Linked DNA regions of Homo sapiens. The protein of the gene in region 3 purifies or fractionates together with the protein of the main gene of each other region. This does not show direct contact. Each region holds a gene or a part of one and is shown on either strand. Other genes may lie near its edges.

Region 1 (4,125 bases), on a different chromosome or scaffold from region 3:
ACAAGTTGATAAATGCAGCAAACCACGCTGGCACATGTATACCTATGTAACAAATCTGTACATTCTGCACATGTATCCCAGAACTTAAAATTAAAAAAAAGAAGAAGAAGAAAAATGGTGTTCAAAATATTTCATTTTACAAGTGGTAATGAAACTGAGCTTTTAAAAAAAAATCAGTGATGAGATGTCATTTCCAGGAATCCTCTTTTGGCACCACCAGCTTGAGTTCATCACACTGCCACCAGCCTGCATGGGTGCTGCATTTCCCCTGCTGCTGTATAATGGTGGTTAAACTATGGTTCTGGGGCACCAGGCTTCCTGACCTTGAAGGCAAGCTCCTCTATTGACTAGCATATGACCTTGGGCAGTTCCTTTAACCTTCCTAAGTTACAGTTTCTCATCAGTAAAATGGAAATGGTGGCAATACCTGTCTAATATGGCATATGGAGAGTAGTAAAAGAAATGACTAGTGCAGTAAAGAACATCTCAGTGCCTGCCACACAGCAAGTGCTTTCTCTCCAGATACCAGCGTGACTTCTTTCTGTCTCATCTCCTTTAGATCTTTACTCCACTGTGAAGCCATCTTTGACCATCCCATTTAAAAATGCACCCCCTACCTCCAAACATTATCCCATTTCCTCCCTTCTTTTTTGTCCACCGCACTTCATCACTATCTCACATACTATGTATTTTAGTTATTTGTTATGTTTATGCCTGTCTCTTTAGTAGAATGCAAGCACCAAGCACCTGTATTCCCAGATCAATGCCTGGCATGCAATAAGGACTCAAGGGAGGAAGAGATGAGCCAGCCCTGCTATGCTGAAACTACTCCCGGCCCAGTGCTAGCCCTTTGGGACCCCGTTTGAACGTCTGACTGCCCTTTGACACCTGGACCAGTGGGCAGGAAGAGAAACTAAAATCGAGGTAGTAATTTAAGCAGCACATTATGGGGGGGCTCTGGCCTTACTGAACTTGAACTCAATGCTGCCGATTTTTCATAAGCCTTGATTCATGATACCCCACTCCCTCTTGCTCAGCTAATGAGCTCCTCCTGTTACCCAAAGTTGACCCGAGGGACCCACTGCAGAGCCCGGGATGGCAAAGAATTCTCTGACTCAGGCTCTGACCCGGACTCGGAGGGGCAAAGTGAGCAGGAAAGGGATCTGCAAAGCTCACCTCCTCTTGGCCAAGGCGGCCTCGCGCTGGGGAGGCGGCTCTCGCGCTGGGGAGGCGGCTCCCGCGCTGCAGCCCTGCTCCGGCGCCCCGCGCCGCCTCCGCTGCGGGTCGGGAGCGCGCGTCTCCGCCGCACCTCGGATCTAGGAGCTACTCGCCCGGCCCTGGGCGGTGGGAGGCGGCGGCGGCGGCGGCGCTCGCGCACCTCGGAGGAGCCAGGAGCCGGAACCAGGGCCGAGCCCGCGGGCCGGGGCTAGCCAGCCGGTAACCACGGGCGGGACAGGGCGCCCAGGGCGGAGCAAAGCCCGGGCGCTGGGTGCGGGGCGCGTGCAGCTTTGGTCAAGGCAGGGCTTGCTTGGGTTTGGGGGCAGTCTTTAGTTTAGAGGGGCTAGAGAATGGGGTGGGAGGAGGAGAATTGGGGTGTGAGGACGCCCACGGGAAGAGTGTGGACCCCGTGGAGAGCACCAAGTTTAAAACCTTCCCGGCAGCCCGCTGATGTGCGTGTGGACGCCGCTGGGCGTCCGAAAAGCCTGGAAGCGGCGGCGCTCGGGGCTTGGGTGGGCTTCCTCCCCTCCGCTGGGCCCCAGCGGCCGAGGCACACCCTTTCCCGCTGGTGAGAAAACTTTCCTTGCTGCGGCCCTCCTGCCGCCTTGGTGCCCTGCAACTGAGAGAGCCCCCCTGGGCTGGGGAAATGTGCTGGCTCCTGGCCCCGGGCGCGCCTCCATGCACTGGGCAGGGTTCTCAGATGATGCCTGGCTTGACAGTTGCTCATTCATTTTGTTTGGACTGGGGAGCCTGCTCGCAGGTCGTGTTACTGATTAGAGGGAAATAGGGGTTTTACACTTTCCCCGCCGCCCCACCCCGCAACCCGCCCCCGCTCCCCCCGCCCGCCCCGCGCCCCGTGCCCCGTGCCTTTCCCATCCTTTCTGTGTAATTAATTGAGGAAGGCAAAGAGTAGTCTCTGCAGAAACCTGTTTGGAGGCGTTGTGGTTTCCACAGCATGTTAGATGGCACAGAATCTCAGCCACTACTCTGCATTTAGTTTGACAACAGTGAAACACTCTGGTGTTTTGAAGGCAAAGGAAGCTTGAGGGAATGTGTCCAGGGAGACGAGAGAAGGGAACTCTTATGCATAAATTAATTCTTACGAAAACCCCAAAAGTAAACAGTAGTATTTTCAGTTTGCAGGTAGAGAAAATTAGATTGCGATATTAAATACGTTTTCCAAGGTGACTGCCCCAGTTAAGTAATAGTGGGGAGTAGGGGTCTGGAAGCTAGGACTGTGAGTCTAGTTTCCTTTAGGTACATTGCATGGGGTACACAGACAAGAACAGGTGCAGGAGAGTGACGAGGGCCTGCAAGGATAAGGTCAGGAAAGCCAGAGGCCACTGTGAGCTGGGGTACCCACAAGGAGTTTCGTTCTTATGAGGAAGATCATCCAGTGTTTATGGAAGAATAGATAATATTAACAGGTGATAGGAAAAGGAAGAGTTGCTTCCAGTCTGTATCTTTCTTTTCAAAGTGAGGCCAGCCTAAACCCTTTAAAGAGGGTCTCGAAGCCCGAAACTGGACTGGATTGTTCAAAACCCAAATGGCAGACGTCCTAGAGTAGTGAAAGCGGTTACAGTCATCTTTGTGCAGGTATGAGAGATGAGAATGGACCCAGGAGACTTTTTAAAAGAGGGAAACATTGAATCCTGGCAACATTCTAGAACAAATTCTTTAAGATAGCTCAAAACTACCTAGGGAAGCATTTACAAATACTTACGCCAAACCAACTCCCTTCCCTTTTCTAGCAATCTACTGGGATATAGATCAGGGTATGCTGTATCCATTGTCTTCAAATGTGGGCTGTGACTCATTAGGCTAATGATCAGTTTAGTGAGTTGCAAATAGCAGTTTTTAAAACATGAAAGCCAAGAGAAAGAAAGATAAGATATCAGAGTGCATTGCAGGAGCAAGGGAAAGTACTGTTTTGTGAAGCGCGCGCTGGTGATGCATGTGTCCTGTTCTGTGTTGCTGATCCTGCTGCCTCTGCGTGAGTGTTCATACCCATCGCTAGCTGCCCCCTTTCAGCCTTCTGAGCTAGCCCCATTCTGGTCACAGTGGGGGTCATCTTCTTTTACCTTGCAGATTATGTCATCAACATATTCTGGAAAGCTGTTCGCTTCCTCCTCCCCATTTCTGTTGGCCCCCAGATGCTGAGGTATTTTGCCAATCAGAATTCATCTCTGAATTATTTATCTGTGACCTTTTTTGATAGTCACAGTTCATAGATAACTTTTATCAAACATATTAAATTAGTTCAAATTGTATAAAGAGAATATCACATCTGTCCTTTTTAGCTTTCAAGGGAAATGTTTTCATTACTTGGAGTACAAAAAATATTGGAAGAACAATATTCTTATGATGTTTGTGTAATATATTTAAGGAACTATTATTATACCAAGCTATGATATTTGGAAGATTACCAGATAATGCCTCATTGTGTCATTTTCTGTCTAGTCTTTTTTTTTTTTTAAATTTTTCTCATTTTGGCTTTTTTTCCTAAATGAAATATCAAGGTAGATATATGAGAACCTCTCCATAACTCTTGAACCCACTGGTTACTTCAAGAGTATGAGGGTTCATCATGCAAAGGAATATGAAGAAATGTTTTAATAAACAAAATGAAAAATAATATGAGGGTTGAGCAAGGAGGCCTTGTTGAATAGATTTACTTCCTTCATCCCAAAGCTAGTGATGGTGTATCTGAAATTGGTGGGTTCTTGGTCTCACTGACTTCAAGAATGAAGCCACGGACCCTTGCGGTGAGTGTTAACAGTTCTTAAAGATGGTGTGTTCTGAGTTTGCTCCTTCTGATGTTCGGACGTGTTTGGAGTTTCTTCCTTCTGGTGGGTTTGTGGTCTCGCTGGCTTCAGGAGTGAAGCTGCAGACCTTCACGGTGAGTGT
Region 2 (3,500 bases), about 85 Mb from region 3:
GGAGGCAGGGAGGGTGGCTTGCCCTGCAGCTCAAATGGATGGAGCACTGGCAGGCTGGATGGTGTCCGGGTGCCTGGGCACAGCCTCCAGGTCCTGGAGCCTCCAGGTCCTTTTCTGTGATCCCTGCTGGGAGGGGAAGCTGGCCTTGCACCGCGTCCTGAGAGAGGGGGACAGTGGCACTGGAGCTGTTCCTGCTCTGTGATGCCTGCTGGGAGGGGAAGCAGGCCTCGTACCAGGTCCTGAGAGAGGGGGACAGTGGCACTGGAGCTGTTCCTGCTCTGTGATCCCCGCTGGGAGGGGAAGCAGGCCTCGTACCAGGTCCTGACAGAGGGGGACAGTGGCACTGGAGCTGTTCCTGCTCTGTGATTCCTGCTGGGAGGGGAAGCTGGCCTTGTGCCAGGTCCTGAGAGGGGGGGACTGTGGCATTTCTCTCATCACTAGCCCGCAGGGGTCTAGGAGAGGGTGACACCAGCCAGGGCTGGCAGGGCACCCTCTCTGCTCTCTCTAGCCTTTCTGGTAGCAGCGGGACCCTCTCTTCAAGTGCACTTGAGATGGTCACCCAGCCCCTGACAGCTGGAGCACTGGGGGGCAGCGGATAGACAACTTACACTGGCCTGTGTCCTCAGCCCACACCCTCTCTGTGGCAGCCCCTGGACACCTCGCCACAACCCAGCTCCTCCACCATGTCGGCCAGGCCCGAGGAGGGCACCAGGCCCCGTGGGTGTCAAACACTCAACCCCAAGCAGTGGGGTGCAAGGAGGGGACAGAGGGGCCTGCCCTGGTCACTCCAAATGCTCCTACGCCCAAGAATTCGACGCCTGTCATAGCACACAGGCATGCATTACTAGTGTCATTAAAGAAATATAATCAAGTGCCGGGGCAAGGTAGAGCCTCAAAGAACAAAGTCTAGAAAAAGGAACCTGTTCCTCCCCAAAGTGCTGCTCCACAGGAGGAGCCCTGGCTGCCGGGGAGCCCAAGGCCAGAGCCCAAGGGCGGCCTCACCTGGTGGCAGGTCCCTAAGAACCTCCCCACATAAGTCGTCTCCACCAGCCCCTCAACTCGAGCACTCAGGCTCCTTTCAAGAGCACCTGTCACGCGAGGGGCTGTGCACAGGACACATGGTCCCCTCCTCACACCACCCACCCGAACTTCCAGCTGAGGACACAGAGGCACAAGCAGTCATGTGCCCCCAAGCCACTCAGCGGGGACAGCATTCAAAGCCTAGGCTCTCAACCACACCCTATCCCCAGATGCAAAGCTGACCACTGAGCGGTGTGCTCCAGTGCAGGAAGGCAGGGGGCACGCTCTTGCCTGTCTCTAAAGCCACTTGGGGCACATGTGCCCTTGTAGCCTGGAGGCAGTCCTGCCAGCTCCTGCTGAAGTTGCAGTTTTCAAACTTTCAGGGCCAGAAGGACCCTTATCTCAAATAAAACCTCTGAAAGTACAAATATCTAATTATGACACAATAAAAAATAAATATTTGGTCCCAGCCCCAGTTCCTGACACAGAGTCCTCTAAAACCCTTGTCATTTCCTCAGCAACAGGGGTGCTAGGAGCCTCTTTTGTTCTAATATTTGTTCCTTGACCTTTGCTCCCAACACAGAACTCCAAACCCTTGGAATTTCCCGGGTGGTAGGAGTGTCTTATGTGCCAGTGAGGTGACTCTTGGCTCCTGGAGGTGGCTGGCTGCCAGAAAGACCAAGCCATGATTAGAGACTTGGAAGTGTCGTCTAAGAGCTCCCGAGGAAAAACAAACAAAAACCTGGGCCAGGTGGGCCGGGCATGGGGGCTCACGGCTGTAATCTCAGCACTTTGGGAGGCCGAGGCAGGTGGATCACCTGAGGTCGAGCGATTGAGACCAGCCTGACCAACATGATGAAACCCCGTCTCTACTAAAAATACAAAATTAGCCAGGCATGGTAGCATATGCCTGTAATCCCAGCTACTCGGGAGGCTGAGGCAGGAGAAGCACTTGAACCTAGGAGGCGGAGGTTGCAGTGAGCCAAGATCACACCATTGCACTCCAGCCTGGGCAACAAGAGCGAAACTCTGTCTCAAAAACAAACAAAAACCACTTTGGGAGGCTGAGATGGACAGATCATGAGGTCAAGAGATTGAGACCATCCTGGCCAACATGGCGAAACCCCCATCTCTACTAAAAATACAAAAATTAGCCAAGCGTGGTGGCACGTGCCTGTAGTCCCAGCTACTCAGGAGGCTGAGGCAGGAGAATTGCTTCAACTCGGGAGGCGGAGGTTGCAGTGAGCCAAGATTGTGCCACTGCACGCCAGCCTGGGCAGCAGAGTGAGGCTTCGTCTCAAAACAAAACAAAACAAAAACAAAACAAAAACCTGGAACTGAATTTCAGCCCAGCCCCATCCTCCAGGGAGGGGACAGGGGCTGGAGATGGAGTTAATCATCAATCCTGCCTACGTGATGAAGCCTCCAGAAAAGGCCCTGAAATGGGGTTTTCAGGAGAGCTTCTGGTTTGCTGAATACGAGGAAGGTGGTGCGCCCCACCCCTTCCCCCACACCTCACCCTGTGAACCTCTTCATCTGAATCCTTTACAATAAACCAACAAACACCAGCCAAGTGTTTCCCTGGGTTCTGTGAGCCACACTAGCAACTCATCAAGCCTGAGGAGGGGACTGTGGGAGCCTGATTTATGGCTGGTTGCTGAGAAGTTCAGGTGACAGCGGGGGCTTATGAGTGGCATCTGAAGTGGGGCAGTCTTGTGGGACTGGGCCCTCAAAGTGCAGGGGTTGCATGACCTCCAGGCAGCGTTGGAACTGAAACCAGTCAAAGGACCCCAGCTGGTTCCCGCAGAAAAGTGGGGAGTCCCTGGGGTGGGAGAAACCCCTCACATCGTGGTAAAGTCCTGGGAGTATGGTCAAAGAGCACGGTTTGGTTTTCTCCCTCTGGTTAGTAAGGTGGACAGAAGCCTCCCCCAGGAGTCTGGGGCCCCCAGCCAGGCCGGTGCCAGCCGCCCGCGGGACTCACACTGCCCTGCCGTTCAGGAACTCCTCCGATGCCTGGCAGTAGATGGTGATGGCCACGCGGGCATCGGCGTCGAAGGTGAACTCCAGGCTGTAGAGCACCCGGGGCTTGTCGCCGTCCTCGGTGGGGCTGTCGGCATCGTCTTTGTACCTACCCCAGGCGGTGGAGAGAAAGGCAGCGGGTCAGCGGCCCCATCTGCGGAGGCTGCCTCCTCCCCTGCCAGGCTGAGGGGCCGTGGAGGTGGCTATGTGGACACAGCCCGCTTCTCCAGTAGACATAGGGGCTGTTTCCTATTTGTACATGAAAGCCCAGTGGTCCAGGGCTTGCCTCTCCTTCTTCCTGCCCACAGAAGACGGGGTACGTGCTTTTGGTTCAGAGACAGCCCCAGATGCCTCAAGTCTAGTCGGTTTAAGCAGTTTCTGAACCTGCTGAAATCTGGTGCTGGGTCATTCCTGTCTGTGGGGGGGCCGTCCTGTGCATGGCAGGAAGTCTGCAGCACCCC
Region 3 (5,055 bases):
TTCACTTCACAAAATGAGCAGCTGCGAACTTGCCTGTGGACGCCTGTGTCCGGTCTGTGTGCACAGGGCTGTGTGTGGGTGGCGTGGACCTGTACCTGTCTCTCTCTTTTCTCTCAAGAAGCTCTCCAGTTTGGAAAGTCGAGAAATGGATCTTTTGTTCTCAAGAGATGCCCCTCCCTGCCCCACAGTGTGCTCGTGTGGCTGCTGCTGGGGTCTAGCTGCCTGGGGTTCCTCCCTGTCCCTGTTCAAGGGAGTCCGGGGTGAGTGTCTGAGGTGCCTCCCTGTCTCCACGAGGGAAGAAGTTTTGCAGCCTCAGGGCAGCCAGCTCCTGCTCCATCCTCAGAGGGGTCTGGTGCCGGGCTTAAGGCTGACTCACCGTCCGGTCTCCCAGCAGAGGCGGGCCCTGCCAGGAAGCAGCTCCCAGTTCTGAGGCCGGCAGTCAGGGGTGGGGCTGGCCAGGGGGCTGCTGACTGAGCCTGCGTAGGAGTCGGCTGATGGCCCTGCAGCCTCCATTGAGCCTGTCCCAGGAAGGGGGCTGACTGAGTGCTCAGTCTCTGCAGAGGAAATGGAGGTGGTCTCTTCAGCGAGACGCCCAGGTTTCAGCAGAGGGATGGCCCAGGGGCGCCACTGCTCCCCAGCACCAGGCAGCATAGTTCATCCCCAGGTACTCACTCCCAGGGACTTCTCCGCCGGCTGGGCCTCTGCCTCACTGCCATCTTCAGAAGCCTCACATCAAGCATTTCCCAGGACTGGCTGAACACAGACCCTCCACCCCCGACCCCTTCCCCACCTGCCTACTCCCAGAATGGCAGTGCTGGGCAGACAGCAGACCCAGCCCCCAGCCCACCTGCACTGAGCCCCCTTCCAGGCATCTCAGAGTGGACAGGGATGGTCCCATTCACGGCTCATCATGGCTGGAGGGACTCAGGGCCAGGGCCAGCAAAGGGATGTGTCCCGGCTGAGGTCACATGTGGTCACAGGGAAGGCTGGGAACCCGCCTCTTCTGCAGCTAGGACAGCGTCAAGAGTGGAGGGGACTGGGGCCCTGCTGCACCTGCTCGTCCTTCCTCTAGGCTGGGGTTTGTCAGCACGGAGAGAAAACCGAGAAGCAGGGTCAGCGCAAGCCTGGTTGGGACCTCCACACTCCCCAGGCATTTGGGGCCTCTGGGGCTGTGGCTTCCTCACCTGGGGAGGCAGCCACGTTTTCCGGGACTCCTTTCTTCCCTCTCGACTCTCACCCCTGCCCACCTTCCCCTCCCCCATCCCTCCACCCGCAAACTTCAAGCACTTTCTGGAAGGGGCTAAGGTGGGTGATGCTGAGTCACATTTATTACCAGACTTTCCTGGCCCCATGCTCACAGGCACTGGTCACTGAGTCAGGCATTTGCCAGGGCTGTCTGCTTGGGCGACTGCTGCAGGAAAGCAGGCTGAGGCCCCAGTGCCCAGTCTGAGCCTTAGAACCGGCCCTCAGGAGGGCTCAGCCCCATACCACTAGGGGGGCTCCTGCAAACCTGGTCCCTTGGCCTGAGGCAGGGATTTCACCTCCTTTTGCAGGAGCCGCTGCAAGGCTGTGGATGAAGCTTTCTGGTCACAAAGCCCCTTCTCCTGGGGCTGCTGTGGGAGTAGCTCTTGGCACACACTTCCACCCAGAGACTTCACATCCCAGCTGACGAGGGCACGGTCCTGAGAGCTGGCAGCAAAGATGGGGTGGGGTGGATGCTGCTCAGTCATTGGAGCAGACGGAGTGTCCCAGGAGTGGGCGGAAAATGTCTCTTTAGGAGCCTGAGGTTGGCCCCTGGTGCCCGGAGCCTGAGGCCCCACAACCTCCCCATGTCCTCCTCCGTTCCCCACGACTGCTGGTGAGAAGTCCTGCCTGGAGTTTTGCAGGGACCCCTCCCTGGACCCAGAAGGGTCCGCGCTTCAACACTTTCAGAGATCATTTAGTCCATCCTCTTTGACAAACGGGGACCAGGGAGGTAAGGAACTGCCCAGGGTCACACAGGAACCAGACCACACAATATCACCACCTCCCTCTGCCCAGCACACTTAAAGCCGCGTGCACCGCGCTCACCAGGAGCATGTCAGCACCTCCTTGAGCGTCCTGCGGAGCTCCTGGCTGTGGAAGGCGTAGATGAGGGGGTCGATGATGGCATTGCAGATGATGAGGGCGAGAAAGAGGTTGAAGTTCTTGAAGATGCAGCCGCACGTGGGGTGCTCGGGGCAGAGGACGATGAGTGTGAGATGCAGGAAGAAGGGGCCCCAGCAGAGGAAGAAAATGCCCAGCAGGATGGTGAGGGTGACAGCGCCTTTAAGGCCAAAGCCCTGGTGGACCGGGCGCTGCCTCTTGTGGAGCCGGGCGATGCCCTGGGCGTGCTGGCAGGCCCGGGCCAGCATGTGGACGTACAGCACGGCCATGAGCACCAGCATAGCCAGGAAGAAGACCACGAGGCACAGCAGGACGGCCACGTGGTCGTAGTAGGCGATGAAGAGCGTGCTGAAGACGACACTGGCCACCCAGATGGCCGCAACGGCTCGCCGCGCCCGCGGCAGGGTCACGATGCTGTGGTAGCGCAGTGCGTAGAAGATGGAGATGTAGCGGTCCACGGCGATGGCGCCCAGGAAGCAGAGGCTGGACAGCATGGAGCTGCAGGTGATCACGTCAATGACATTGTCCAGCTGCTGCAGCACCGCAGCCCGGGCCACCAGTGCACCGGCCTCCAGCAGGAGGATGACGGCCGTCTCCAGCACGTTGCTCCCGCTCACCAGCAGGTCCGACAAGGCCAGGCAGCAGATGAAGCAGTACATGGGTGAGTGCAGGTTCCGGTTCTTGGCGATGGTGGCCACCACCAGCGCGTTCTCCACCAAGCTCACCAGCCCCAGGCTGAGGAAGAGCCCGTCAGAGATGGACACCTCCAGGCACCGGGCTCCTGTCTGGTTGGCAGCCAGCCCCAGCTGGGGGATGGCTGTGGGGGTGGAGTTGAGGGAGCCCAGAAGTCTTCTCTGGGATCCCTGCACAGCCATAGTCCTGTCCAGGAAGCAGGAAGGAGTCGTTGGAGGCCTCCAGGTCCCCACAGTTCTTCCCCTCCAGGTGTCCTGCTTAGTTCATGGTGCTGCCAGGGGGCCTTGGGTGTCCCCCATGCCTGCCTCCTTCCATCTGGGCACCCCCAGATCTGCCCTCACACCCTCTCCCTGGCTGGACAGGTCAGCCCAGGCATGGCCCAGCCAGTCCAGACACCTCCTGGCATCTACCGCCTGGGCTCAGGGATTCTCACAACCAAGCCTGGTCCTCAGCTCCCTCCCTGCCTCTTCCCTGGTGGCTGCTGCTCAGGTCCCCAGGACATTTCGACACCTCTGGACCGTCCTGGCCTCTGTCTCCTGCCTTCCTGGGCCAGGGCTGCGCTGAGGTCCTGGGAAGAATGGAGCTTTTCTCTGCGTTTTAAAAAGTCGTTCTCAGAGCCCCTCCCACTGAGGGCGGCCACATGCCGGGGGCGTGAGCACCCACCATGGCCCGGCCTGCCACCAGGCGGCGTGCAGGACCCAGGGGGTCCCTCACACCGCGGATCTCCTTTACGTTAAAAAACACCACAGTCTGTCCTGGTCACCAGGGCCCCCACCTGGCCGCCCCTCTAGGAGTCCGGAGCTTCCCCGGGACCTGCCCTCTCCAGAGGCCCCACCCTTCACCCCTCCCCTCGTCAGCAGCTCAGGGAGGACAGGGGTCCCCTCTGCTCTCAGCCAAAGCACGCATGGAGCAGCAACTCAGCTGTCAACGTTCACGGCAGATTTGGGGGCTGGACCAGGGAGAACTTTCCAATAATTAAAGTTCTGGAAACTGAGTGAGCCCTGCAGGAGTTTGCACATCGCGCGGGGTGAGGGGGCTTCCGGCCAGGGCAGAGCGTGAAAGCGTCCAATGCTAGTGAGCCCTGGAGAGGTTGGTGTTTTCAGGCATCTTGTAGAGCCTGAGGCCACTCTGGCGCCTGCCCCCAAGGGCCCAGCCTCGCCCAGCCAGAGTGGCGACCCCCTCAGCTGCAGCCCTGGGGCTGTGGGGGTGTCGCTTCCTGGGAGCGGACCGGCTGGGGGCACCCTAGTGAGGTCTTCAGGGACCCTCCAGTCATCTCGTCGCTCATCCTCACAGGGGCACCCGGGACGCTGCTCCCGCCCTCCCCGGGCGGCGCGCCATTTCCGCTGCGGAAGGCACCACAGGCCCTGCACCAACAGCCACATCAAAGGCAGACCTCTCGCCTCCAGCCGTCGCACGTGGTGCTCCGCAGGCCGTTCACAGCAGTCGGGCGTGGCCCCGAAGCCCAGCAGGGACGGTGGAGAGGGGCCCTGGCACCCACTGCAGGCATCTTCCTGGGTTCACTCCAGGGCGTTCCCAGCACTTCCTTGCTGAAGACTGCGTCTGTGCTGAAGGGTGGAAGCGGGAGGGGGATGGAATTACTCGTCCCATTTACAGCTGCAGGAAAGGAGGCAACGGTGCAGGCACCGCATCAGGGTTTTCAGTTTTGTGTCTGCGATGTTCGAGTTAAAATCCATCCTGTCTCTCGCCCAACTGCCAAACTCTGACCATGAAATGCTCACACCACTCACAAGCCACCTCCATGTGTGTGAGGACATTAATATTTTTCATATTTACTGGTACAGTAAATACTTGTTACAACCGCATTTTACAATTTATAAATCTTTAGTTTTGCTTTAAAATTTTTTATTATTGTCAGCCATGGTGGCTCAGGGCTGTAATCCCAGCACTTTGGGAGCCCAAGGCGGGTGGATCACCTGAGGTCAGGAGTTCGAGACCAGCCTGGCCGACATGGAGAAACCCCGTCTCTACTAAAAATACCAAAATCAGCCAGGTGTGGTGGTGGGTGCCTGTAATCCCAGCTGAGTCAGGATAATAGCTTGAACATGAGAGGCGGAGGTTGCCGTGAGCCGAGATTGCACCATTGCACTCCAGCCTGGGCAACAAGAGCAAAACTCTGTCTCAAAAAAAAAAAAAATTATTATTGCCGGGCACAGTGGCTCACCCCTATAATCTCAGCACTTTGGGAGGCTGAGGCAG
Region 4 (3,500 bases), about 33 Mb from region 3:
AGGCGCGCTTCATGCTCAGGACCTTGAATGCTTTGTGCCTTGATATTGCCTTGCCACACTTCCCAGCCTCCTTCAAGTCTTTGTATCACCTCCCTGAAGTCTACCTTGGCCAACCTGTTTATAATTGCAAACCACTCCCCAGGCTTAGCACTCCCCATTCTTTCCCTGGGTTTCTTTTTTTCCTTTATGCACTTCTCACCATCTTTATACTAATCTGCTTTTTGTGTCTGTTGTCTATCTCCCTCAATGGGCATAGAAACTAGACTATAATAACGACTTAAGTATTTGTTTAATGAATAAAGCACAGAGGGTAATAACTTGTCAAGTCACAGACCCATCCAATGGAGGGGCCCTGTGTTAAACCTAAGCAGCCTGGCTTCAGAGTCTGGGCTCTTAATGACAATGCTAGGACCAGAACACTCACTAAACTGCTCTCCTTTGTGTGTCTCTTATGTGAAGGAAATCCCTTTTTTTTCTCTATTTTCATGATCAAGTCTGATGATTTGAAGAAGAGAAGAGAGCCTCACATCTCCACTTTAAGGTAAACAAGTAATCATATTTGTTGGGTGCTAATATGTGCCAGGCAGAGTAGTAAGTGCTTTAAATGTTACAACATTGTGTATGTCATATAATTCTTGTTGACATTGTTAACCCACTTTGTAGAGGAGGAAAGAGACCGAGAAATTGAGTTTGCATAGCTTAAAATTAAGGGAGCTAGCATACAAACCTAAGTCTGTCTGATTCCAAGGCCCAAGTTCTCAGTGATAAAATGCTCAATCTTGTTAGTAATCAAGGAAACAGAAGTTAACACTGGAGATACCATTTTTCACATGTTAGGTTGGTAAATATTAAAAATAAAAACCCTAGTGTTGACAGATATAGATAGATAACTTTATACACTGCTGTAGTCTTTCTTCAAAGATGGTTTTGAAAGATGTATCAGAACCCTTAAAAGTATGCATATCTTTTTGTAGAACAGTTTCACTTATAAGAATTTATCCTGGGGGCTGGGCGTGGTGGCTCACGCCTGTAATCCCAGCACTTTGGGAGGCCGAGGCGGGTGGATCACCTGAGGTCAGGAGTTCAAGACCAGCCTGACCAACATGGAGAAACCCTGTCTCTACTAAAAATACAAAATTAGCTGGGCGCGGTGGCACATGCCTGTAATCCCAGCTACTCAGGAGGCTGAGGCAGGAGAATCGCTTGAACCAGGGAGGTGGAGGTTGGGGTGAGCCGAGATCGAGCCCGTTGCACTCCAGCCTGGGCGACAACAGCGAGACTCCATCTCAAAAAAAAAAAAAAGAAGTTATCCTGAGAAAATAAGGATATGCTCAAAGATTCCATACAAGATTACTTATTGTAATATTGTTTATAATATTGAAAAATTATATACAAATTTGATCGCCCATGGAGATTTAAACATAATAGTACAAAACATAAAGTGGAAACTATACAACCATTAAATATGATATACATGAGTTTTGACACATGAATGTGGTAGTTATCTATGTTCTCAATTCTAAGAAACTTTTAACATTTTAACACCTCTGGGATCTAGTGTCTCACACAATCACTTTTGTGTCCTACTTTAATTGACAGCATTTTTTCCTTAGTGATATATGAAATAATGATACTTAACACATTTTTGTCAAGAGAAAAAAATAATACACACAATTTGATGCTTTGTTGTTTTTTCTGACCAATGGATTCACATCACGTGATCTTATTTTAAAAAGAGATACACACACCTACATTTGGATGTCTGTGTGTATAAAGTAAAAGATTTGGAAAAATAGAGTATTTAACTCCTGCTAGTAGGAATACAGATTTTTTTTTAATAGTTTTTTACTTACATGGGATTTTTTTCCTAGTTTCTATAATGAATAGATGTTGCTTTGTAATAGCTGTTTTTCACCTATATGGTATAAATTATTTATTCTCATTATATTTTTTCTCTGCAGTACTTCCATGTATTATAGGCAGCTTGCACAATTTCTTCTAAATCCTGAAGTATTGCTTGTGTGTTAATTGTAATGCATTATGTTTCATATTTACTTAGACTTTTTTCCCCCTAAAGAAAGATTATCATGAATTAAGGCATTATCCCCTTAGTTCACAACACCACTCTGCTAAGCATTTCATGTGGGACTGAGTTACATTCCACACTAAAGGCTTACAGCCAGATGGTGAGCAAGCTGCAACTCCGTAATCGTTACAGAGAGCTGATCTTTTTATTTCCCACTTGGATTCTGTGAGTTCCTTCATGAATACAATTAACAAATGCTAACAATGACAAAATAAGCCTGTCCTTGTGACACTTTCATAGAATGAATAGAAGAGCTTTTTCTGGAATTTGTGAAAGCTAATGTTACCAGTAAAGGATTTAAGACTATTAGTTGCTTACAGTATCAAGACTTTGAAGAAATATTTATCTCTCACATTATCTGAAGCCTGGTTCAGCAGTTTGCTATCCTGACCCATTTTACATAATTTCCAACTCTGCCTTTAAAAGTTACATGGCACCTCTGAGTGGACTGACTGAGCACAATTATTTTATGGAATGTTCTTTAAGCTTGTTCGCAGCTGATAATGGAATTTTTTGGTTTTGATAGTGTATAATATAAAAAGGTATTTGGTAATGAAATCTTAGAGATCAACCTGGAGATTTGATACTTAGTTATAAACAGGACAGTTCTATTTTATGGGAATTTCAGTAATGTGCATTTGGAGTAGGATGATCCAAAAAAATATTAAGTATCTTTGTAAGCGTAACTTGAACTAATGTAAATCTTTTTAAAATGTTTTAATTCCTCAAGGTTAGTAATAATTCATAATTTCAAAGTTGATTGGCTGAGTGAGTTATAAATTGTGTTAAGAGATTTCTACATGGAGAGCCAGTTTAGCTGGTAAATGGAAACGTTCACCATCTTCTATTGGTATCCTGTTAGCATCAGAACTTCTATGAAGGATTTCACTCATTATTATGCATTTAATTCAACACTCATCATTATTGCCATTTAAAGTTGTTTTAATCTTCTAAAACAGTGCCACCCAAGTGTTCATTAAATGGCGGTACCAGTATTGGTGCTTGTGATTTATAATAAATGTATATTTGGTCTTGGTCTCTATTCCTGGCACAGACCTCTCTGACCTCCTGCAAGGGAAGAGAGGCTGGAGGTTGAGTTAATCACTAATAGCCAATCACTTAATCAATGATTCCTTCATAATGAAGCCTCCATCAAAAACCCTAACCAAAGGAGTTCAGGATTGCTGAACTCCCATGGAAGTGCTGGGAGGGTGGTGTACCTGGGGAGGACGTGGTGTGGAAGCTCCACACCCCTTCCCCATACCTCACCCTATACATCCCTTCCGTCTGGCTGTTTCTCAGTTCTGTCCTTTTATAATAAACTGGTAATCTAGTAAACAAACTTCTTCTGAGTTCCGTGAGCTATTCTAGTAAATTATCAAACCCAAGGAGGCAGTAGTGTGAACCTCCAGTT

What was found.
Region 1: the proteins of MC1R (region 3) and MRAP2 purify together in Homo sapiens (co-immunoprecipitation; one study listed by IntAct). This does not show direct contact.
Region 2: the proteins of MC1R (region 3) and MGRN1 purify together in Homo sapiens (affinity purification with western blotting; 3 studies listed by BioGRID). This does not show direct contact.
Region 4: the proteins of MC1R (region 3) and OGFOD1 fractionate together in Homo sapiens (co-fractionation; one large-scale study listed by BioGRID). This does not show direct contact.

What each region holds. Positions count from the first base shown.
Region 1 is NC_000006.12:84,032,447-84,036,571, forward strand, and holds the start of MRAP2 (melanocortin-2 receptor accessory protein 2), read left to right. Parts: upstream 1-1,325; 5' UTR 1,326-1,437; intron 1,438-1,672; exon of another isoform or gene 1,673-1,786; intron 1,787-4,125. UniProt on the Homo sapiens protein: Modulator of melanocortin receptor 4 (MC4R), a receptor involved in energy homeostasis. Plays a central role in the control of energy homeostasis and body weight regulation by increasing ligand-sensitivity of MC4R and MC4R-mediated generation of cAMP.
Region 2 is NC_000016.10:4,652,326-4,655,825, reverse strand, and holds part of MGRN1 (E3 ubiquitin-protein ligase MGRN1), read right to left. Parts: intron 3,149-3,500; coding exon 3,002-3,148; intron 1-3,001. UniProt on the Homo sapiens protein: E3 ubiquitin-protein ligase. Mediates monoubiquitination at multiple sites of TSG101 in the presence of UBE2D1, but not of UBE2G1, nor UBE2H. Plays a role in the regulation of endosome-to-lysosome trafficking.
Region 3 is NC_000016.10:89,917,224-89,922,278, reverse strand, and holds MC1R (melanocyte-stimulating hormone receptor), read right to left. Parts: upstream 3,324-5,055; 5' UTR 3,021-3,323; coding exon 2,067-3,020; 3' UTR 1,307-2,066; downstream 1-1,306. Other genes in the region: guanine nucleotide-binding protein subunit gamma 4-like, read right to left, coding at 3,324-3,428, 4,232-4,403. UniProt on the Homo sapiens protein: Receptor for MSH (alpha, beta and gamma) and ACTH. The activity of this receptor is mediated by G proteins which activate adenylate cyclase.
Region 4 is NC_000016.10:56,458,054-56,461,553, forward strand, and holds part of OGFOD1 (prolyl 3-hydroxylase OGFOD1), read left to right. Parts: intron 1-459; exon of another isoform or gene 460-485; coding exon of another isoform or gene 486-494; coding exon 495-541; intron 542-3,500.